2 linked regions of the Homo sapiens genome follow. The protein of the gene in region 2 interacts with the protein of the main gene of each other region in a biochemical or structural test. Each region holds a gene or a part of one and is shown on either strand. Other genes may lie near its edges. The genes, in order: SLCO1B3 and CCKBR.

Region 1 (11,915 bases), on a different chromosome or scaffold from region 2:
TTTTTCTTTGCAGGACATAAGATTTCACAACCTGCTAAAAATGAGCATTCCTAATAACGTGGGATCTATTGGTCTAGGAATAAAACATCACAGCCATGCGAGATCAGACAAAATTCAAGACCAGGGAGTAATTTTCTTCTAAAATGCTTTCTTCAAAAGATTTTAAAAGGAAAAAGGCAGGGGTATGAAAGGAAAATAAAAACTTGAGACCCCAATTCACTATGACATAAGAAACAAAATTAAGCTAAAAGCTGAGTTCTGCAAAAAGATGCCCTTCCTTAAGCAGATAGCTACAGATAAAAGGTTAAATATTTCCACAGGTAGCTAGTCTATGTTCACCTTATATTGTGTAAAGTGCCGATTTACTGAGCACAAGACAAATAAATAACTGACCATTCCCTTACCTGCTAGTTTTTCTCTTGCAACATGTAGATTCAGTAACGTGGCCATACATTGCCACTGTCAGGTCTCTGAGCCCAAGCCAAGCCATCCCATCCCCTGTGACTTGCACGTATACGCCGAGATGGCCTGAAGTAACTGAAGAATCACAAAAGAAGTGAAAGGCCCTGCCCCGCCTTAACTGATGACATTCCACCATTGTGATTTGTTCCTGCCCCACCTTAACTGAGTGACTAACCCTTTGAATTTCCTTCTCCTGGCTCAGAAGCTCCCCCACCGAGCACCTTGTGACCCCCGCCCCTGCCCACCAGAGAACAACCCCCTTTGACTGTAATTTTCCTTTACCTTCCCAAATCCTATAAAACGGCCCCACCCTTATCTCCCTTCACTGACTCTCTTTTCGGACTCAGCCCAACCGCATCCAGGTGAAATAAACAGCTTTATTGCTCACACAAAGCCTGTTTGGTGGTCTCTTCACATGGACACACATGAAATTTGGTGCCGTGACTTGGATCGGGGGACCTCCCTTGGGAGATCAATCCCCCGTCCTCCTGCTCTTTGCTCCGTGAGAAAGATCCATCTACGACCTCAGGTCCTCAGACCGACCAGCCCAAGAAACATCTCACCAATTTCAAATCCGGTAAGCGGCCTCTTTTTACTCTCTTCTCCAACTTCCTTCACTATCCCTCAACCTCTTTCTCCTTTCAATCTTGACACCACACTTCAATCTCTCCCTTCTCTTAATTTCAATTCCTTTCATTTTCGGATAGAGACAAAGGAGACATGTTTTATCCGTGGACCCAAAACTCCGGTGCCGGTCACGGACTGGGAAGGCAGCCTTCCCTTGGTGTTTAATCATTGCAGGGATGCCTCTCTGATTATTCACCCACATTTCAAAGGTGTCAGACCACGCAGGGATGCCTGCCTTGGTCCTTCACCCTTAGCCGCAAGTCCCGCTTTTCTGGGGGAGGGGCAAGTACCCCAACCCCTTCTCTCCATGTCTCTACCCCTTCTCTGCTTTTCTGGGGGAGGGGCAAGTACCCCTCAACCCCTTCTCCTTCACCCTTAGTGGCAAGTCCCGCTTTTCTAGGGGGCAAGAACCCCCAATCCCTTATTTCCGTGCCCCAACCCTTTCTCTGCTTTTCTGGAGGGCAAGAAACCCCCATCACTTCTCCGTGTCTCTACTCTTTTCTCTGGGCTTGCCTCCTTCACTATGGACTAGCTTCCACCTTCCATTCCTCCTTCTTCTCCCTTAGCCTGTATTCTTAAGAACTTAAAACCTCTTCAACTCTCACCTGACCTAAAATCTAAGCGTCTTTTTTCTTCTGCAATGCCGCTTGACCCCAGTACAAACTCGACAGTAGTTACAAATTGCCAGAAAAACGGCACTTTCAATTTTTCCATCCTACAAGACCTAAATAATTCTTGTCGTAAAACGGGCAAATGGTCTGAGGTGCCTGATGTCCAGGCATTCTTTTACACATCAGTCCCTTCCTAGTCTCTGCCCAATGCAATTCATCCCAAATCTTCCTTCTTTCCCTCCCGCCTGTCCCCTCAGGCCCAACCCCAAGCGTCGCTGAGTCTTTCTAATCTTCCTTTTCTACAGACCCATCTGACCTCTCCCCTCCTCGCCAGGCCGAGCTAGTTCCCAATTCTTCCTCAGCCTCTGCTCCTCCACCCTATAAACTTTTTATCGCCTCCCCTCCTCACACCTGATCCGGCTTACAGTTTTGTTCCATGACTACCCCTCCCCCACCTGCCCAGCAATTTACTCTTAAAAAGGTGGCTGGAGCCAAAGGCATAGTCAAGGTTAATGCTCCTTTTTCTTTATCCCAAATCAGAAGCGTTTAGGCTCTTTTTCATCAAATATAAAAACCCAGCCCAGTTCATGGCTCATTCGGCAGCAACCCTGAGATGCTTTACAGCCCTAGACCCTAAAAGGTCAAAAGGCCATCTTATTCTCAATATACATTTTATTACCCAATCTGCTCCTGACATTAAATAAAACTCCAAAAATTGGAATCTGGCCCTCAAACCCCATAACAGGACTTAATTAACCTCACTTTCAAGGTGTACAGTAATAAAACAAAGTTGCAATTCCTTGCCTCCACTGTGAGACAAACCCCAGCCACATCTCCAGCACACAAGAACTTCCAAACGCCTGAACCTCAGTGGCCAGGCATTCCTCCAGAACCTCCTCCCCCAGGAGCTTGCTACAAGTGCCAGAAATCTGACCACCAGGCCAAGTAATGCCCGCAGCCCAGGATTCCTCCTAAGCCGTGTCCCATCTGTGTGGGACCCCAGTGGAAATCGGACTGTTCAACTCACCTGGCAGCCACTCCCAGAGCCCCTGGAACTCTGGCCCAAGGCTCTCTGACTGACTCCTTCTTGGCGTAGCGGCTGAAGACTGATGCTGCCTGATCACCTCAGAAGCCCCATAGACCATCACGGACGCCGAGCTTTAGGTAACTCTCACAGTGGAGGGTAAGTCCGTCCCCTTCTTAATCAATATGGAGGCTACCCACTCCACATTACCTTCTTTTCAAGGGCCTGTTTCCCTTGCCTCCATAACTGTTGTGGGTATTGACAGCCAGGCTTCTAAACCTCTTAAAACTCCCCAACTCTGGTGCCAACTTAGACAATACTCTTTTATGCACTCTTTTTTAGTTATCCCCACCTGCCCAGTTCCCTTATTAGGCCGAGATATTTTAACCAAATTATCTGCTTCCCTGACTATTCCTGGACTACAGCCGCATCTCATTGCTGCCCTTCTTCCCAATCCAAAGCCTCCTTTGCATCCTCTTCTTGTATTCCCCCACCTTAACCCACAAGTATAAGATACCTCTACTCCCTCCTTGGTGACCGATCATGCACCCCTTATCATCTCATTAAAACCTAATCACCCTTACCCCGCTCAGTGCCAATATCCCATTACAGCATGCTTTGAAAGGATTAAAGCCTGTTATCACTCGCCTGCTACAGCATGGCCTTTTAAAGCCTATAAACTCTCCTTACAATTCCCCCATTTTACCTGTCCTAAAACCAGACAAGCCTTACAAGTTAGCTCAGGATCTATGCCTTATCAACCAAATTATTTTGCCTATCCACCTCATGGTACCAAACCCATATACTCTACTATCCTCAATACCTCCCTCCACAATCCATTATTCTGTTCTGGATCTCAAACATGCTTTCTTTACTATTCTTTTGCACCAGTCATCCAAGCCTCTCTTCGCTTTCACTTGGACTGACCCTGACACCCATCAGGCTCAGCAAATTACCTGGGCTGCACTGCCACAAGGCTTCACAGACAGACCCCATTACTTCAGTCAAGCGCAAATTTCATCCTCATCTGTTACCTATCTCGGCATAATTCTCGTAAAAACACACATGCTCTCCCTGATGATCGTGTCCGATTAATCTCCCAAACCTCAATCCCTTACAAAACAACAACTCCTTTCCTTCCTAGGCATGGTTAATGTGGTCAGAATTCTTACACAAGAGCCAGGACCGCACCCTGTAGCCTTTCTGTCCAAACAACTTGACCTTACTGTTTTAGCCTAGCCCTCATGTCCGCGTGCAGCGGCTGCCGCTGCTTTAGTACTTTTAGAGGCCCTCAAAATCACAAACTATGCTCAACTCACTCTCTACATTTCTCATAACTTCCAAAATCTATTTTCTTCCTCATACCTGACGCATATACTTTCTGCTCCCTGGCTCCTTCAGCTGTACTCACTCTTTGTTAAGTCCCACAATTACCATTGTTCCTGGCCCGGACTTCAATCCAGCCTCCCACATTATTCCAGACACCACACCTGACCCTCATGACTGCATCTCTCTGATCCACCTGATGTTCATCCCATTTCCCCACATTTCCTTCGTCCCTGTTTCTCACCCTGATCACGCTTGATTTATTGATGGCAGTTCCACCAGGCCTAATCACCACACACCAGCAAAGGCAGGCTATGCTATAGTACAAGCCACTAGCCCGCCTCTTAGAACCTTTCATTTCCTTTCCATCGTAGAAATCTATCCTCAAGGAAATAACTTCTTAGTGTTCCATCTGCTATTCCATCTGCTACTCCTCAAGGATTATTCAGGCCCCTTCCCTACACAACAAGCTCGAGGATTTGCCCCCACCCAGGACTGGCAAATTAGCTTTACTCAACATACCCCGAGTCCCAAAAACTAAAATACCTCTTTGTCTAAGTAGACACTTTCACTAGATAGGTAGAGGCCTTTCCTATAGGGTCTGAGAAGGCCACTGCAGTCATTTCTTCCCTTCTGTCAGACATAATTCCTCAGTTTAGCCTTCCCACCTCTATACAGTCTGATAAAAGACCAGCCCTTATTAGTCAAATCAGTCAAGCATTTTTTTAGGCTCTTAGTATCCAGTGACAAACTAATAGTCTATTAAAAACACACCTCACCAAGCTCAGCCACCAACTTAAAAAGGACTGGACACTACTTTTACCACTTTCCCTTCTCAGAAGTCAGACCTGTCCTCAGAATGCTACAAGGTACAGCCCATTTAAGCTCCTGTATAGACGCTCCTTTTTATTAGGCCCCAGTCTCATTCCAGACACCAGACCAACTTAGACTGTGCCCCAAAAAAACTTTTCATCCCTACTATCTTCTGTCTAGTCATACTCCTATTCACCGTTCTCAACTACTCATACATGCCCTGCTCTTGTTTACACTGCTGGTTTACACCGTTTCTCCAAGCCATCACAGCTGATATCTCCTGGTGCTATCCCCAAACTGCCACTCTAGAAGAGTGACTACAGAGTGGCCAGGCACGGTGGCTCAAGCTGTAATCCCAGCACTTTCGGAGGCCGAGGCAGGCGGATCACGAGGTCAGGAGATCGAGACCATCCTGGCTAACATGGTGAAACCTCATCTCTACTACAAATAAAAAAAAAAATTAGCTGGGTGTGGTGGCGGGTGCCTGTAGTCCCAGCTACTCAGGAGGCTGAGGCAGGATAATGGCATGAACCCAGCAGGTGGAGCTTGCAGTGAGCCGAGATCATGCCACTGCACTCCAGCCTGGGTGACAGAGCGAGACTCCATCTCAAAAAAAAATTATACTATAGAGTTATAGTAACCAAAACAGCATGGTACTGGCATATAAACAGACACATAGACCAATGAATCAGAATAGAGAACCCAGAAACAAATCCACACACCTACAGTGAGCTTATTCTTGACAAAGGTGCCAGGAACATTCAATGGGGAAAAGACAGTCACTTCAATAAATGGTGCTAGGATGAAACTAGACCCCTATTTCTAGCCATATACAAAAACAAATCAAAATGAACTAAAGACTTAAATCTAAAGACCTCAACCCATAAAACTACCTCAATAAAATATTGGGGAAACTCTCCAGGACGTTCATCTGGGCAAAAATTTCTTGAGCAAATTTCTTACCCCAGAAACACAGGCAACCAAAGAAAAATTGACAAACAGGATCACATCTAGTTAAAATGTTTCTGCATAGAAAAGGATACAATCAACAAAGTGAAGAGACAACCCACAGAGTAGGAGAAAATATTTGTAAACTACCCATCTGTCAAGGAATTAATCACCAGAATGTCTAAGTAGATCAAACAATTCTATAGGACCAAATCTAATAATCCGATCAAAAGGTAGGCAAAATATTTGAATATACATTTCTCAAAAGAAGACATACAAATAGCACACAGGCATAGGAAGAAGTGCTCAACATCAGTGATCATCAGAGAAATGCAAATCAATACTACAATGAGATGCTATCTCACCCCCAGTTAAAATGGCTTATATCCCAAAGACAGGCAATAACAAATGCTGGTGAGGTTGTGGAGTAAAAGGAATTCCTTGTACACTGTTGGTAGCAATAAAAATTAGTAGGACCACTATGAAGAACAGTCTGGAGGTTCCTCAAGGAACTAAAAATTGAGCTACCACGTGATCCAGCAATCCCACTGCTGGGTATATACCCAAAAGAAAGCGAATTCGTATATCTAAGATTATCTGTACTTCCATGTTTGTTGCAGCACTGTTTACAATAACTAAGATATGGAAGCAATGTAAGTGTGCATCAGCAGATGAATGCGTAAAAAAAAGTGGGACATATACACAATGGAGTACTATTCAGCTATAGAAAGAATGAAATCTAGTCATTTGCAACAAAATGAACTGGAGATCATTATGTTAACTGAAATAATCCAGGCACAGAAAGACAAACATTGCATGTTCTCAGTTATTTGTGGGATCTAAACATCAAAACAATTGAATTCATGGACACAGTGAGTAGAAGGATGGTTACCAGAGGCTGGAAAGGGTCATGGGGGTGTGGGGGTAGGAAGATGGGGATGATTTATGGGTACAAAAAATAGTTAAAAAGAATGAATAAGACCTACTATTTGATAGCCCACAGGGTGACTATAGTCAATTACTTAACTGTACCTTTTAAAATAAAGTATAATTGGATGGTGTGCAACTCAATGAAAAAATGCTTGAGGAAATGGATGCCGCATTGTTCATTATTTGCTTATTTCACATTGCATGCCTGTACCAAATCATCTCATGTACCCCATAAACATACATACCTACTACATACCCACAAAAATTAAAAATTAAAAAGTTAAAAATAAATAAACCTTTATTCATCAAAAAATTCTAGCAAAGAAATAACTTCAATCAGATTAAAAACTGATTTAAATCAATATAGGGATTATTTTGTTAATATTTTAATGTACGCTTCAATGGAAAAATTGTAATATGAGATATAATGTTCTTTTTGACAGTTAGTGGCCTTTCTATACATAAAAATTTTCCATTAACTTATTTTAGTTTGAAAATATAAAACCCATTCTACCTTGAATCCATTGCAGCGTCTTGTTTTCTTTTTCTCTGAAGATGCTGACTCTGCTGTTTTATTCAAATGTTGATGTTGGTCCATTATTAAACTACAGATACCAAGTGAATATTTTTAATTGTTGCTGATGCTTGGTTTGAAATGATCACCTGTTAAAAAAGAAAAAGTATAATTTATTTTACTTTAACAATATACAATTTAAAAATAGGAAAAGCCACAAGCTCAATATCAATCAATCAATCATTCTCTAATATTCATTCAGGGCCTGCTATTTCCTGACCACAGGACTAGGTCAATGCTGGACACAGAGGAGGAAAGACAGAGACAAACTCCTAGCCTAAAGAGATTATAATTTGCTTAGAAAAATAATTTTCATAGAGAGAAATTTGAAACAAGTAAATAATATAAAACCACACACTAGATTGTATGAACAACAATTTTAAATTATAGAAATTAAAATTTTTATATTTTCTACATATCCAGATTACAAGATTTATGAAAGGAAATTTATGTTTACGTTATCCTTATAAGTTTATAAAGTGCCAAATGATGACTTGCACATAGTGGATACTCAAAATGGGTTGAAAAATAATGTAAATAATAATGATTAGGATAGCCTCAGTCAGTTTCATAGAGGAGATGCCTATGGAACAAGGCTCAAAAAGCAGATAAAGTTTGGATTTGTTTAAAAGAGCAAAATATATTCCAAGTATCTCTCAGAGAGACTCTGGCCATGCTTGACCTTACCATCATCATGATCTTACTGTATTTAGGGTTTATCCACTTATTTTTCAAGAGAAAATACATGCATGTAGTTGAAAAATGCAAAAAAAAAAAAAAAGAAAAGAAAAGAAAAGGCAAGATTCTGCTTATAACCTTTGTCCCCTTATCCAGAAATCTGGTATGCTTTTTTATTTTTTTTTTTTGAGACGGAGTCTTGCTCTGTCTCCCGGGCTGGAGGGCAGTAGCGTGATCTCGGCTCACTGTAAGCTCTGCCTCCCAGGTTCACGCCATTCTCCTGCCTCAGCCTCCTGAGTAGCTGGGACCACAGGCGCAGGTGCGTGCCACAACGCCCGGCTAATTGTTTTGTATTTTTAGTAGAGACAGGGTTTCACCGTGTTAGCCAGCATGGTCTCGATCTCCTGACCTCCTGATCCGCCCGCCTCGGCCTCCCAAAGTGCTGGGATTACAGGCGTGAACCACCGCGCCCAGCCTTAATATGCATTTTTAATTAAATACATAATATTTTCTCTTTTAATATAAATGTAAGCATACCAGTATTACTGCACTCTACCTTTTTATCTTCTGTATATACTTTATATTAATAAAAGTCCTCATTTTGCTTATGGTAGCAGGGTATTCTGTTGTTCATAATATATGTAACTAGTTCTATATCGTTAACTATTTAGCTTATATCTAATTATTTCATATTAGAAAATGTTCTTAATATGTTATATGTCATTTTCTGTGTGGTCATATCTGTAGGATAAATTCCTACAAGTGAAGTTTTGAAGTCAAAGTATATGAGAAATCATAAGTTTCAGAGTTATTAAGCCCCTATTTTAAAGACCAGTAAAATGAGTCAACTTTTTACGTCAGTTGACTCTTTTATATAGAACAGTGGAATATTTATAAGGTTTAGAGATGTATTCTTGTTCATACATATATGCATAACACATATTTATGTATATAAAGTATATAAGCAGACACATAACATAGATATAGGTATATGTTATGTATATAGCATATATATGTGGATACATGCTATGTAGATACTTGCTATGTAGCTGCTCATATAGATACCTTAGATATGTAAATATCTAAGTATGTAAATATCAATGTTATCTATATAAGCATCCGATTTGTAATAGGATACTGATTATATAATATGTATGATATAGGTTATATGTACAATTGATTCTCACGTTTTGCAATAATTATGTTCCATAAAGTTGCTGGGAACACTGAATTTGCAAATATTAATCCATCATTCCTAGAAGAGATACAGTGTTAGGTGACTGTGTGGCTTTGGTCACAATATTTTAATCAACGGATCAATACATAACTTAATACATAATGTTTTATGTATGTTTTTGTTTAAAGACACCTTAGTATATACTGTTGATTCATTAACATTGAATTAGTGGCCAATAGCACTGTAGTTCATGCCTGAGGGAAACTTACATAGCATATGTACCTCTTCTGTCAGGCCCTCTAGGAGGTGGGAACAACGGGACAACACTTCAGGGCTATGCTTGAAGTCCATTTAAAACAGTAAACTCAGCATCGCAAAGCACAACTATGGAAACAATGTGGCGATAAATGCACTGTGAAGTTTATAGTATGGGAGCTGAGAGAGGAAGGCAGAGCTTCACTTTGTTCCACTTCAACTGGAAACAGAGCAACTCAAATTTTTCACCACTCTGCTCATGCATGCCAATGATCACAAAAGCCCAGCAGTATTAATTTTGGTGTCACAAACAAATTTTAGTGTTTAGACAAATTTTCTAATATAGAATCTGTGAATAATGAAGATCTACTGCATATTTTATGCATTAATTTACTCAACAAGGATTTATTGATTCTCTATATTATAAATGCATAAAAACCATAAATATATATCATGCATATTTAGTGGATAATGCATGAATATGGAAAAATCAATATCTGAAGATATTATCACTTATGTATATGCGAGTGTATATAAATACACTCATGAATGGAGAAACCCATACCTATGTATCTCTAAGAGAAGTTCAATTATTCCACTTTTTGTATGTGTTTTGTAGGTAAAGTGAGGAAAAAAATCAATAATTTGGTGGTCTCAAGGTAATAAGCAGCCCCTTAATAAATTTACACCACTTTTTCCACGAATATCTCTGTTTCTTCATAATTTAAAAGTTGGAAAATATTTATTTTTTACCAATTAATTCTATAATTGCAAATCTTTTTGAACGACTTGCAAGGCAGATAGTCTTCCTTCAGCTTTAGAGTTTTCTTTTTCTTTATACTAAACAAATATTCTTGAAGGCTTGAAGACTATTATCTCACCACTCAAGCCTTGTTTCTTTCAATTGATTAATTTCTACTTGTCCTGTCTTCCAGCTTGCTTTCTTTCCTATGCATATCATGTCCATTCTTGGAATCATTCAAAGATCCCTCTTACAACAAAAATAAAACTTACACTTCCTATTTGAGGGTCTTCACAGCCTAAATGAATCCAAGTTTTTAGTCCCATTTCCCAATACAACCATAAGCACTTGCAGATGTATGGAACCACTGTCCCAACAGAAAAGCTCTCTACCTTCATGTATATGTCTTCCATTCCTGGAATGTCCTTCCCTATCTCTTGGCTGTAATGCGGCTCCAAATCACACCACTTTAATGTTTCCCTATTTACCTCTAGTTGAAATAAACTCTCTCATCCTCTCATCCTTCTGTACCACTGGAGAACATACCCGAATAATCATTACTTTTTTCTGTTATTTCCCGTACTTTCCAAGACAACTATTCCACACCTCTCTCTTTTATGTTCAGATAAAATACCCATCCAGAAAAATAAGAAATGTGGGCACTTGGTTTCTCATCTCTCAGAAAGGTTAAATTGTATCAAGTAGGCCGGGAGCAGTGACTCATGCCTGTAATCCCAGCACTTTGGGAGGCCGAGGCGGGCAGATCACCTGAGGTTGGGAGTTCGAGACCAGCCTGACCAACACAGAGAAACCCCATTTCTGCCAAAAATACAAAATTAGCTGGGTGTGGTGGTACATGCCTGTAATCTCAGCTACTCTGGAAGCTCAGGCAGGAGAATCACTTGAACCCAGGAGGCTGAGGTTGTGGTGAGCTGAAATCACGCCATTGCACTCCAGCCTGGGCAACAAGAGCGAAACTCCTTCTCAAAAAAAAAAAAAAAAAAATGTATCAAGTAAGTACAAAGTACCTACAAAACTTGAATATCAATTTAGCCTTGAATAAATACCACACTTTTTACTTCATTGTGGCATTTTAAGCCTTATTTAGAAGCGTTTAATATATTTTGCTCTGAACATATTATTTCTGAGTTCCAAATTATTGACATAAATAAATGTTGAGGACACAATATGTTTATAGACAGAGCCACAGGCATTTGTATGCAGCATTGCAACTCTTCCCTGAACAGAACAGGTCAGTTCTTCACAGTTTGATTGGGCTGAAGTAGAGGGCAGAATCTTACCAGCCTCTGCTTATTTCTGTTTAGCTTTTCATATTTAAGGGGTTATAGAAAACCAGTGCAGGCCAAGTGACCCAGTTTCTAGCATGTACCTATGGAACTGAGGAGGATAAAAGGGAAAACAGCATTTCCTAACTTCTTAGATTGTTCAGAGGAGAGAATTTCTGCATCCCCACCTTACTTTCACAATAAAAATAACTGTCTTATCAGGGAAGCCACCTTCCTGAATGGGTGAAGGGGACCATTATTTATTGAGCTGTTAATTCTTTCCAAGAGCTGTGCCCAGAAGATTTTTTTCTCTTATTTGAACAGAGATAAAAAAGTTATCTAGAAAATCTCTTTCCCCTCACCCTAAATCAAACGAGTTGAATGGAGGAAAGTGAGGTGATTAAGTGACTTTGAAACATATTTTCCACCCCTCCACCCGCCCACTCCTACTTATCCAGTTAA
Region 2 (11,915 bases):
GTGAGGTCAAACTAGGAGCATCCCAGAATCAGTCCTGTGCCAGGCTCCATAGTCTCTAAAACAATCAGTGCCATTAATCTATGTGTGTGAGAGGCAGGTCAGCCCTTGTCAGAGTTCCCACTGTGTAGAAATAGTTCACTGCTAGGGACGCTGTGTCTCTCCAAGGTCAGTGTCATGTTTCTATGGGCCAGGCTCAGTCCCATATCAGAGGCATGCCTCCTTTCCCATGTACTGCTCCATTCTTATTCCTCTTGTGTCAGGTAAGCTACCTTTTCCTGTGCGTTGGGGTTAGTCCATGCTTTGGGTGTTGGTTTCCTGTGTCAGTTGTGGTTTGTGTTTCGTATGTCTGGAAGGGTCAGTGCATGTCATTTGCCCTGCCTCAACCCCCACGGCCCCTCTACTCCTCAGCCAGGGCCCAGTGTGCTGATGGTGGTGTAGCTAAGCCTGGACAGCGAAGCAATGGAGGGAGTGGGAGGGTCCTCATCGGGAAGAGCCCTGGGGCGAGCTCGTGGAGGCCGGGGGCAGCAGCGAGCGCAAGTTTCCAGGCAGGCCTGGCGAAAGCGACGGTGCATGAAGCAGTAGACCAGGGGGTTGACACAGGCCGAGGCGTAGCTCAGCAAGTGAATGAAGGAGATAGGAGCACCCGAGAGTGCTCGGTGTGCACCCGGGCCATCAAAGGCGCGCCACGTGTTGGCACTATAAACTGGCAACCAACACAGAAAAAAAAGCACAACGATCACCAGCAACATTCGCACCACGCGCTTCTTAGCCAGCAGCTTGGCCTGGGTGGGCCGGGAGCCGGATCCCGGCCCAGGAGCCGTCAGCGCCGTCAGCTCCAGGGCAGGCCGGGAACGTGGAAGTTGCACGTAGCAGCCATCGCTGTCTTCGCCAACCGCGCCAGTCTCAGGCCGGCAACGCCCGTTCTGGTGAACAGCCCCTGAGCACAAAGGGTGGGCGGTCAGAGAAAAAGGCGAGTCCCCCCAGTCTCCAGCCCAGTCCCCACCTGACCTCCGCTCCCAGCTCAACTCCATTTCCAGCTTCCTTCTCACCCTCACCTTCATTTCAGTCCCACCCACTCCAGCAGGCCCCGTCGCCCTCCAAAGCTCCGCCTCGCCCAGATTTTGCTCACGTGGTCCAGCCCCACCTGGCAGCCCGCCTTGGTTTCGGACCCTGCTTTGGCTGTCGCTGTCACTGTCGCCGTCAAAGCGAAGCCCTAAGTAGAGCTCGCGAGAGATAAGCCCGTAGGCCACGGCCATAACCACACCCGGGATGAAGAACAAGAGCAGAAGCAGCAGTACGGACCTGAAGGCAACACAGACAGATCACTCGGGTTTCTGTCCAGCTGTAATCACAGATGGAGAAAAAGCCAAGGACTAGTGTTTCTAGGGCTGTGGCCAGGTACCTGAAGTAGGAGTAGGATTTGGGGGTGCCGCTGGGAAGGGAGAGAGAACTGGGGAGGGGCCCCAAACTGGAACTCCAGGGTGGTGGATGCAGAATAGGAGTTGGCGTGGTAATTCTCCGGGAAGCTGGAGGAAGATTCTGGGCAATGGTCGTAAGCATCTAATAGGGGTGAGAAAGGAATTCCTAGGATAGTTTATGGGCAAGCTCACCAGGTCTGGCGGACCCGCGCACTGGGCCAGCGATGCACGCACTGCAGCACACGAGGCCCCACTGGTTGCACGACAGTGTACACGGGGTAGGGCACCATGAGTAGTCCGGACAGCAGCCACGTGGCTACAATCACGCGAGCCGCGTGGGAGCGCGTCTGCCACACTCGTGCCTGCAGTGGTCGGCAGATGGCGCTGTACCGCTCCAGTGCGATGGCCACGAGGCTTAGCGTGGACACACTCACAGACACCCCTAAACAAGGGAAGAGAAAGGAAGGAGTCACCTAGGAAACTTGCACTACACAAGCATCAGTGGGACTTCCTCACACCCCTCCCTGCCAACCGGGGAAGACCCCTACATCCACAAGAGCTTTAGGCGGGGAGAGTGGCAAGTGGGGGTGGGGTGGTTGTCTCACCCACCCATGAGGTAGGAAACCGCCTTGCAGATGACGGTGCCAAAGATGAATGTGCCCATGAGATTGGGCAGGAGGGTGAAGGGCATGCAAGCCACAGCCAGCAGGAGGTCGCTGACTGCCAGTGAGAGGAGGAAGGCATTGGTGACAGTCCTCAGGCGGCGGCTCAGTCCCAGGACCACGATGATGAGCATATTTCCTCCAACGCTCATCAGGAAGATCACTGCGTAAAGAGTGATTCTAATGGCCAGCTCCAATTCTGGGTAAGAAAAGGGAGAGGTGGCAGTAGGGGGTCAGCCTTCATTCAGTCAAATCCCCCTCCTTCCGTCTTATCCCCAACCCTCACTACCCAGCCAGATGCCTACATTCCCCACCGATGAACTGCTCAGTAAATGGTGAACTTGAATCCTTTAGCCTTCTAACCCCTTGAGGTTTGGTTAAATTGGCCCAACTCTGCCCTTCCTTAAGAAAGCCTGTCTCTTCTCAAGGTTCGTTCCAAATCTTTCCTTCTTTCTGCAGACAAACTTCTTAAGAGGATATTTGTGTCTTCTCATTTACTCTTCATTCCATTACAATACAATATTCTGTGCCCTATCAGTGCATACTTCTTCCCAAGTACACTAATCTTTAACTGCTAAATTCAAAGGTCCTTTCTTAGCCTACTCTATTTGACCCCGCTAGAGTATTCTACACTGTTGACAACCCACTACCTTTTGAATCACATCAGATCATGTCTTTATTCTCTAAAAACAAAAGCAAAAAAAAAAAAAAAAAAAATACTTCACTTACTCTCTACTGTCTGCAACCCCTCAGAATATCATCAAGATCCTCCCAGAAGGGACTTCTTTCTCTCCCACCCCCTCCCTGTACAGCAGGCATTTAAGCAAGCCACTGGATGACTCAATTTCTTGAATGCATCATTTGCACTTGTGACTCTCTCCCTGCTCAAGCTGGTTTCTCAGACCGGAATACTCTTTTACCAACCCTCCTCACAACTTCTACCCCTCATCACAAGCTTATTTTCTGTATCTGGTGAATTCCTATTCATCCCTTGTTGGTCAAGACTCAAATTGACTGCTACTTCTTCTGTAAGGCCCTTCTGTAAGGCCCTTCTACTCTCCTCTTTCTCTGACCCATGCCTGTTTCTTACACAACTATTACAGCCTATTTTACTTCTGCCTTGTATTTTAATTCTCTCCAAACATTCATTCTCACTCTATAAACATTTACAGAGGACTCCCTTTGTGCTAGGCACTGGGGACAAAGAGATGAACATGACAAGATCCCTGCCATTTGAGAGCTCACAGTGGGGAAGTAAACTCAGATACATAAACAGATGTGATAAGGAGTGAGGCTGAAGGATGTATAAGGTGCTGTTGGAGCTCATAGGAGGGACACCTGTGTGAGGCAGAGGGGCTGGGAGGCTGACCCCATTCTTTTGTGTCATTGTCTATTAAAAGATGGATTAATCTTTGGACCACCACATCACAGCCAAGCAGATTTAGATAAAATCGAATTGGATTGAACAGGACTGAATTACTCACACCTATGGCCTCAGCATGAGAGGGATTAGAGCTGGAAGGTAGAGAGGGCAGGGGACAGAGCCTCCTAGATTGCAGAGAAGGAAAGCCTCAAAGCTGCAGCCCCCTCTTCCAGAGCCCCATACTTTGACTGATTCTCATTTTAGCTCCCAAATTGAAAACTACAGCCATGCACTGAATAACGATGTTTTGGTAAATGACCAATTTCATATACGATGGTGGTCTCATAAGATTGTAATGAACAGCTGAGTGCAGTGGCTTATCTTTGTAATCCCAGCACTTTGAGAGGCCAAGGCGGGAGGATCACCTGAGGCCAGGAGCTTGAGATCAGCCTGAGCAACATAGCAAAGTCCCGTCTCTACAAAACATAAAAAATTAGCTGGGTGTGGTGATACGTGCCTATAGTCATAGCTACTCAGGAGTTTGAGGCAGAAAGATTGCTTGAACCCAGGAGTTCAAGGCTGCAATGAGCTATGATAGTGCCACTGCACTCCAGCCTGCACAACAGAGTGAGACTCTGTCTCAAACAAAACCCAAAATAACAACAACAAAAGATTATAATGGAGCTGAAAAGTTTCTATCACCTAGTAATGTTATTGTAACATTGCAGCATAATGCATTACGTATGTGTTTGTGGGGATACTGGTATAAACAAACCTACTGTGCTGTCAGTCATATAAAAGCCTAGCACATACAATGATGTACATAATACTTGATAGTGATAATAAATGACTGTGTGACTGGTTGATGTATTTACTACATTATACTTTCAATCATTATTTTAGAGTATACTCTTACTTATTTTTTTAAAAAAGTTAACTATAAAACAGACTCAGGCAGGTCCTTTAAGATGTATTCCAGAATAAAGCACCGTTATTATAGGAGATGACAGCTCCATGTGTGGTGTTGCCCTGATGACCTTCCAGTGGGACAAGATGTAGAGGTGGAAGATGGCAATATTTATCCTGACCCTGTGTAGCCCAATGTGTGTGTTTGTGTCTTGGTTTTAACAGAAAGGTTTTTTTTTTTTCTAAAGTTAAAAACAGAAAAATGCTTATAGGATAAGAGTATAAAAAAAGAAAATATTTTTGTATAGCCATACAATGTGTTTTTTGTTTTACACTGTGTTATTACAAAAGAGTCAAAAAGTTTATAAAGTAAAAAGTTACAGTATGCTAAGTTTAATTTATTATTAAATACATTTAGTGTAGCCTAAGTATCCAGTGTTTATAAAGTCTACAGTAGTGTACAGTAATGTCCTAGGCCTTTACTTTCACTCACCACTCATCACTGACTTAGCCAGAGCAACATCTACTCCTGCAAGTTCCATTAACGGTACGTGCCCTATACAGGTGTATGATGGTTTATCTTTTATGCTGTATTTTCACTGTACCTTTTCTATGTTTAGATACACAAATACATAACATTGTGTTACTCTTCCCTACAATATTCAGCACAGTAATATACTGTACAGGTTTGCAGCCTGGGAGCAGTAGGCTATACCGTATAGCCTAGGTATGTAGTAGGCTATACCTTCTAGGTTTGTGTGACAAACACTCTATGATGTTTACACAATGAAATCACCTAATGATGCATTTCTCAGAAGGTATCCCCATCATTAGTTAATGCATGACTGTATTTTCTCATAACAAAAACCAATTTATTTAGAAATTGTAGGCATCAAATAAATGCTATTTATAAAAACTTCCAAACCGAACTCAGCAGTAACATTCTTTGCTCAAGACCACACACCTGATAAGGGGCTGAATCAGAATAGAAGCCAAGTCCCTGATCCCTAATGTGCTTTGCCTCCTACTGTTTGTTCCTGCAGTACTCTGTTATTCATCATACTACCTCCATGTTTTTTGTTTGTTTGTTTGTTTTTGTTTTTGTTTTTGAGATGGAGTTTTGCTCTTGTTGCCCAGGCTGGAGTGCAATGGCATGATCTTGGCTCACCGCAACCTTTGCCTCCTGGGTTCAAGCGATTCTCCTGCCTCAGCCTCCTGAGTAGCTAGAATTACAGGCATGCACCACCACGCCCGGCTAATTTTGTATTTTTAGTAGAGATGGGTTTCTCCATATTGGTAAGGCTGGTCTCGAACTCCCGACCTCAGGTGATCACCTGCTTTGGCCTCCCAAAGTGCTGGGATTACAGGTTTGAGCCACTACGCCTGGCCCATACTGCCTCCTTCTTAATCAAATCTCAATCTAAATGCCTCTTTCTCCCTCTCTCTATACTCAACCATGGCATTTTTCACTGTATTAGTATGTATGTAATTCTCTGTCTTCCCCACTAGACTAGGAGCTTCTTGAGGACAGTGGCAAGGTCCATCTCGCTCTCCAGTATATCCCTAGCACTCATCATCCCTAGCACAGGGGAGGCAGTCAACACATGCTTGTTAATGAATCTTGGATGATTCTGTCTTTCAAGACAGAAGTGCACCTGCTTTCCCCCTCCTCATCCATCCGTCATCTCTGCAGAGGTGCTCCAGCATGCCCTTTCTTCTTCTTCTTTGCCTCTGTCTTTTTGGAGACACATGTTGGAAGGTCCTTGTGGGGGTCAGTGAGAGGTTATGATTTCAGATGCATAACTTTTGTTTTTTATATGCAAACCATCTATATTTCCTTTAGAAGCTGGGCCTCTCTCTGTAAGGAAGGATTACAGAAGGCTTATAGGTGACAAAATTTGAGGGGAGTAAGTGTGTATGGTGGAGAATAAAGGACTTTTAGGAGGGAGACCTCTGTCAGAGAGGTCCTTGGACTCAGAAAAGAGCTGGTGGTTTATCTTGGACTCACTGTTTCTTCTCCAAATCCATTGTCCTCCCACCCCCAGCCTCCACCTCTTTAATCTTTCTAGTTCCATTATCTTGCTTACATCTGCCCTGGATGTCTTTCTTCAACTAATTATTGATGCAATTCGCCACACCTCAAATTGGTACAGTACTGTGAAGCATGAAAAGCAATTTCTCATTCATTCATCCAGCTGATGTCCCATGTGTGTGCCCTTGAACTTGGCTAATTGTGATAGACCATAAAGATGGAGCTAAATATTACCCTTATAAAGTTTGCAATATGCTTGGGGACTCCTGAAATTTATAAGACAAAGTCCCAGTAAAAATGACCAGCAACTGTGCAGTGTTCTGCTGTTTTACTGGACATTCCTAGCTATTATCTTATTTCCAGCCACCACTGTCTCCACACGTCTTTGCTGTTGAACAGTTCAGAAATGTGAAAAATTCTAATTAAAAGCAATTTTAGAGCCAGGAGTTTGGAGAGGCAGAGCGAGGGATAAATAGATGAAGTACAGGGGATTTTTAGGGCAGTGAAACTATTCTGTGTGATACTGTAATGATGGATACATGCCATTATACATTTGTCAAAACCTATAGAACCATACAACACAAAAAGTGAACCCTAATGTAAACTCTAGAATTTAGAGAATAATGTATTGATATTGGCTCATAAATTGTGACACATGTACCACACTAATGTAAGCTGTTAATAATAGGGTAAATTCTGTGTATATGTGTGGTTGTGTGTGTATGGGCACTCTGTAATTTTTGTAAACTTAAAACTGCTCTAAAAATAATCCATTAGTTTAAAAAGTCATGCACAAAATAAATCAGACTTAGACTTGTATGCGTGTGTGTGTGTGTGTGTGTATTGATGTGTGTTTGCATGGTGGAATATGAGTGATGACAGTGGCTTCAGTGACTAGGAAACAGGCATGGGTAGAAGGATGGGAGATAGCACCTGCTGGGGTACATCCACAAGTGCCTTGATAAGTCTACCCGTGAGCATCATCTCATCATCTTCCTGGGGATGAGGAAAACTGGCATCAGACCAGGCGACTCAGAAGATTGGGACAGTTCAGTTCTTCTCCTGGTGTTTAGAAGATCTGTATTTGTTCTGTCTAGATAATGGCAGAGAAGTATGAGTGCAAAAATCCAGACAACGTGACATAAAATGAAAACCAAGACTTTCTAAGGAAAAACTCCACAGAACACTGAAGCTGCTGATGCCTTAAATTCTGCATTCTACTGGCAGGTTTGATCTGTTCACCCATGCACACAGACATCAAAGTAATACCCTTGTCTCTATGATAAGCAGGGATCACATCCAACTGACTGTGGGTAGTGGCTGGGTGAATGGGGGAATCCACATAGTGGGTACTGAGGGAGCAGAAGTAATATGCAAGGGTGTGTAGGTAATATCAGAGTGAGTGTTGGGCATACTTTAATCTTTGAAATAGTATATGGGTAGGTGAAAGTCACGCTTATTTCTGTGGGACATATCTGGAGAATGGTAACATCTACATGCTTATAGGTAATATCCGATTGAATATGGCTTACATTTAAGTTTAGATAATATCTGAGTCACTGTAGTAACATTTGAAAGAGCAAGGGTTAATATCCAACTCTCTGTAGATAACATTTTGTAGGTAACATCTTCAGGAAGCATAGATTACATTCAGAGGTCTACTTGTGAGTAGTGGAATATCCAAATAATGATAGAAATTGCTGACTGAGCAGAAGTAATATCCAAGTATGTATGGGTAGTATTTGAGTACAGATGTTAGATGTTAACATGTTAACTAAATTAAGATGTTAATCTGGGCCAGACATGGTGGCTTATATCTGTAATCCCAGCACTTTGGAAGGCTGAGGTGGGCAGATCTCTTAAGCCAAGGATTTAGAGACCAGCCTGGGCAACATGGAAAAACCCTATCTCTACAAAAAATACAAAAAATTAGCCACTTGTGGTGGCACATGCCTGTAGTCCCAGCTATTTAGGGGGTTGAGGTGGGAGGATCACTTGAGCCTGCGGAGGTCAAGACTGCAATGAGCCATGATCATGCTACTGCACCCCAGCCTGGGCAACAGAGGGAGACTGCCTCAAAAAAAAAAAAAAAAAAAAGATGTTAATCTGAGTAAATGAAATAACTGAGCACCTGAGTGAATGTAAGTAATATTTAAGCTTTTGTGGGTATTATCTGAGTATGTGAGAGTAATATTTGTAATTTTATGGGTAGTATCTGGGAAAAGCTTACTTAAGTGAGCATAGGTAATATCTGGTTGTGTGTGGATAATAATAAAATGAAAGTGAGTAGTGTTTGATGGATGGGTAACACCAAAATGACTTCGGACAATATTAAAGTGAGTGTGGTAACATTTGTCTTTCTGTGGGTACTATCTGAGTGAACATGGGTAATACTCAAGTCTGCATGGATTATATAAGGAGAATAAAGTGGTAACATCCAAATTCCTATTGGTAACATTGGAGTGAACCTGGGTAACCTATGCATCTGCAGGGATAATATCTGAATGAGTGTGGCTGACAGGGTCTCTGTGTGTAACATCTGACTGGCTGGGTAACATCCAAATGTGTGAGGAGCATTTAGATAAGTGAGGCAAATTTTTGCACCTGTGCTCTGAATTGCGTCACATCCCGCTTTCACAGGGAATCTTCTCTATTGACTATCCCCTTTCTTATCTGCACCTTCAATCTTCCTCTCTCGGCCCAATCACCAACAAACATTTTAAAAAGCTCTTGTTTTAAAATGCGTGCACACACACGCGCACACACGTAACAAACCTATGCACATACCCACTCCCCCCTTCCTCAATCTCATGCTATTTTTGGCAATATCCTGCTTTTCTTTCTCTCTCTCTCTCTCTCTCTCTCTCTCTCTCTCTCTCTTTCTTTGCCTACCAGACTTCTTGAAAGTTTTGGCTACATACCTTGGTTCACTTCTCATAACTCCTTCTCTCACCAGTCCAATCTTTAACCTACCATAGTCAAGCCTCAATACCTACAACTCCTAAATATTTTCTTGTTATTGAATGTGAAGGATGCTGTTCTGACTGTCCTGTTTTTTATTTATGTAACTTATGTCAATAGCATTTGATATCACTTACCCCAACCTGCTTGAAACTCTCTTTTTCTTGCTTTCTGGAAGGGCGTAGCTCCTGCCTTTCTGATGGTTTCATCTGAATCTCCTTCATAAATTCTCCTTTCTCTGCCTGGCTTTTAAATAATGGTCTTATGCAGAGTCTTGACCTAGGACCTATTTTCTTCTCATTCTATACAAAATTTTATGATTTTAACTATTCTCGGGGCTTCTACATCCTGTAGGCAAAGACCTTCTTCAAGTCTGTATTTCCACCTCAGACCTCTCCTGTAAGTTCCAGACCCCTGGATTCAACAGCTTACTAGGTAACCTCACCTGGATGCCCCACTAACATTTAAACTCAATGGGTTCCAAACTGAATTTATAATTCCCTCTTCCAAACCTGTTTCTGCTGTTTTGTTATCTTTCTCATTGTATACAATTGCTATAGCACCAATATCCATTCAGTTGTCCAAGTTAGAAATCTGAATGTCATCCCTTGACCTCTTCCATCCTCTCTGCTTCTAATCTGTTGATTCCATTTCCAGAAGAGGCTCTCAAATCTATCCACCTCTCTCCATCTCCCTTGCCATTACCTTAGTCTCAGCTAGCATCATCTTTCACCCAGAACAGTGTAATATAGTAACCTTGTAAAGTATCCCCCTGCCTTCCATCTTATGTCTTCCAATCCGTTCTCCACATTATAGAACTAATCCTGGTAGTACTACCGAATCTTTTAGTAGTTCCTATTGCCCTCGGGAGAAAGTCCATGTTCCATGGTCAGGCCTAGCAGGCTCTCTGCAAACCCTCTAGGCTGGTCTCCAGCCTGTTCATTATTCCCTTCTTAAGATATATGTTCTAGTCACTCAAAACTATGTCACAGTGGATAAAAGTGCCATGAATTCAAACTTTGAGCTTCTTATACATCTTGTCCTTTTATTTGGGATGCTTTCTGCCTCTTCTGCCCGTTCACTTGGCTGGCTCTCCCATATGTATATGTGTGTGTGTGTGTGTGTGTGTGTGTGTGTGTGTGTATATATATTTTTTTTTTTTTTTTTTTTTGCCAACAGGAAGCTTAGAGCCAGCCTCCCTAATTTTTTTGACTTTGTAGCTCATTTCCTCAAGAGGCCAACTTTAATTCTCAAGGAGGCTGGGCTGGGCTAGAGGTGTTCCACTTGTGTTCCCACTATCTTTTCCCTGTCAAGGCTCTTCCACTTTGTGCTGCAATCCCCTGCTTTTCTGTCTCGCCCATTAAACTTTGAGCTCTGTGAAGTAGGAATTGTGTCGGTTTTGTTCAACTTACATTCCCACTGCCTAGCACAATCTCTGGTTCAATAAATATTGGCTGAATGACAGAATCCAAGTGTGAGTGTGTAACAACTCGGCTGAGAAAGCATAGATTATTTCGTGGGGTAAATAAATACTTGGATTACAATTTATTCCAACTTTCCCTTTTTGAGTTTAGAAAAATTTCCTTCTGCTTAACATTGCTCCTTCACCTAGAATCCCACTCCTTCCTTTTCTGCCTACTCAACTTCAAGACCCAGCTCTAAGGTTCTAGCCTCTGTGAAGTTCTTTTGGTGCCCACAGTTTAGACCCTTTCATGGGACTTCCATTGTGTCTGTGATTTTTCCATTTGCTTGGTTTCTCTCTGCACTTGGCTATGGGCCATGAGGGTCCAGACTGGGTCTAGTTTGCCCTGTGCCCCCAGCACCTAGCCTAGGGCTGGAGAGAGAGCTTGGAAGATAGCTGGAGACATTACTTGCAGACAAAGAGAGAGGGCACAGAGCCTCGAAAGCTCCAACTAGGGAGGCAGAGGGGTTTGAGAAGGAGTGAAATGGAGGCAGGCAGCTCTAAGGAGCATCCCCTAGTGTCCAGCCTAATTCAGATTTGAGGATCTTTTTTGGGATGGCTGGGGGCTGGGGTGTCAGATGTGATCACAACTTCAGCTTCGCATTCAAGCTTTCCAGAGTGCTCCCTCCCTCAACCAGCCCCCTTCTTTTCCCAGTCCTGCCTTCCTTTCTTCCTTCCCTTCTCTGTTGTGGCTCTGTGAACTGGATGTAAGAGGGAAAAGGAGATCTGCAGGGTTGGCAAGAGGAGGTCCTCGCCTTCTGACTGGTGTCTAGGAGGGGCTGCGTGTTGGGGAAGGGGCTGTGCTTTGGGGTGAGCAGGGGCTCTAGGTGTATTCAGGGGACCAGGATGTGAAGGAGTTCCGACCAGGTGGTGTGAAGCTGTGATGAAGTTGTAGGCTGTGGGGGTGAAGGTGTGAGGGGAGCTGTTTGGGGGCTGAGGGAGTACTATGAGAGGCACGGTGTGGACGTTTGAGAAGGTAGTGTGGAGCTCGTTGGGGGGACTCTATTAGTGTTCTGGGGTACAGTGAGAAATAGCTTGTGGGGGGGGCTGAGGGAGGCACCCACCTCGTGTCCCGGCTCCGCGAATGCGAGGGGGCTCGCAGCTGAGGTTG

Evidence for each region.
Region 1: the proteins of CCKBR (region 2) and SLCO1B3 form a complex in vitro, tested with the Homo sapiens proteins (one study listed by BioGRID).

Annotation. Positions count from the first base shown.
Region 1 is NC_000012.12:20,811,163-20,823,077, reverse strand, and holds part of SLCO1B3 (solute carrier organic anion transporter family member 1B3), read right to left. Parts: intron 9,555-11,915; 5' UTR 9,440-9,554; intron 7,405-9,439; 5' UTR 7,340-7,404; coding exon 7,256-7,339; intron 531-7,255; exon of another isoform or gene 405-530; intron 1-404. Other genes in the region: SLCO1B3-SLCO1B7 readthrough transcript protein, read right to left, coding at 7,256-7,339. UniProt on the Homo sapiens protein: Mediates the Na(+)-independent uptake of organic anions.
Region 2 is NC_000011.10:6,260,033-6,271,947, reverse strand, and holds part of CCKBR (gastrin/cholecystokinin type B receptor), read right to left. Parts: coding exon 11,869-11,915; intron 2,280-11,868; coding exon 2,028-2,279; intron 1,861-2,027; coding exon 1,611-1,860; intron 1,303-1,610; coding exon 1,145-1,302; coding exon of another isoform or gene 938-1,144; coding exon 405-937; 3' UTR 1-404. UniProt on the Homo sapiens protein: Receptor for gastrin and cholecystokinin. The CCK-B receptors occur throughout the central nervous system where they modulate anxiety, analgesia, arousal, and neuroleptic activity.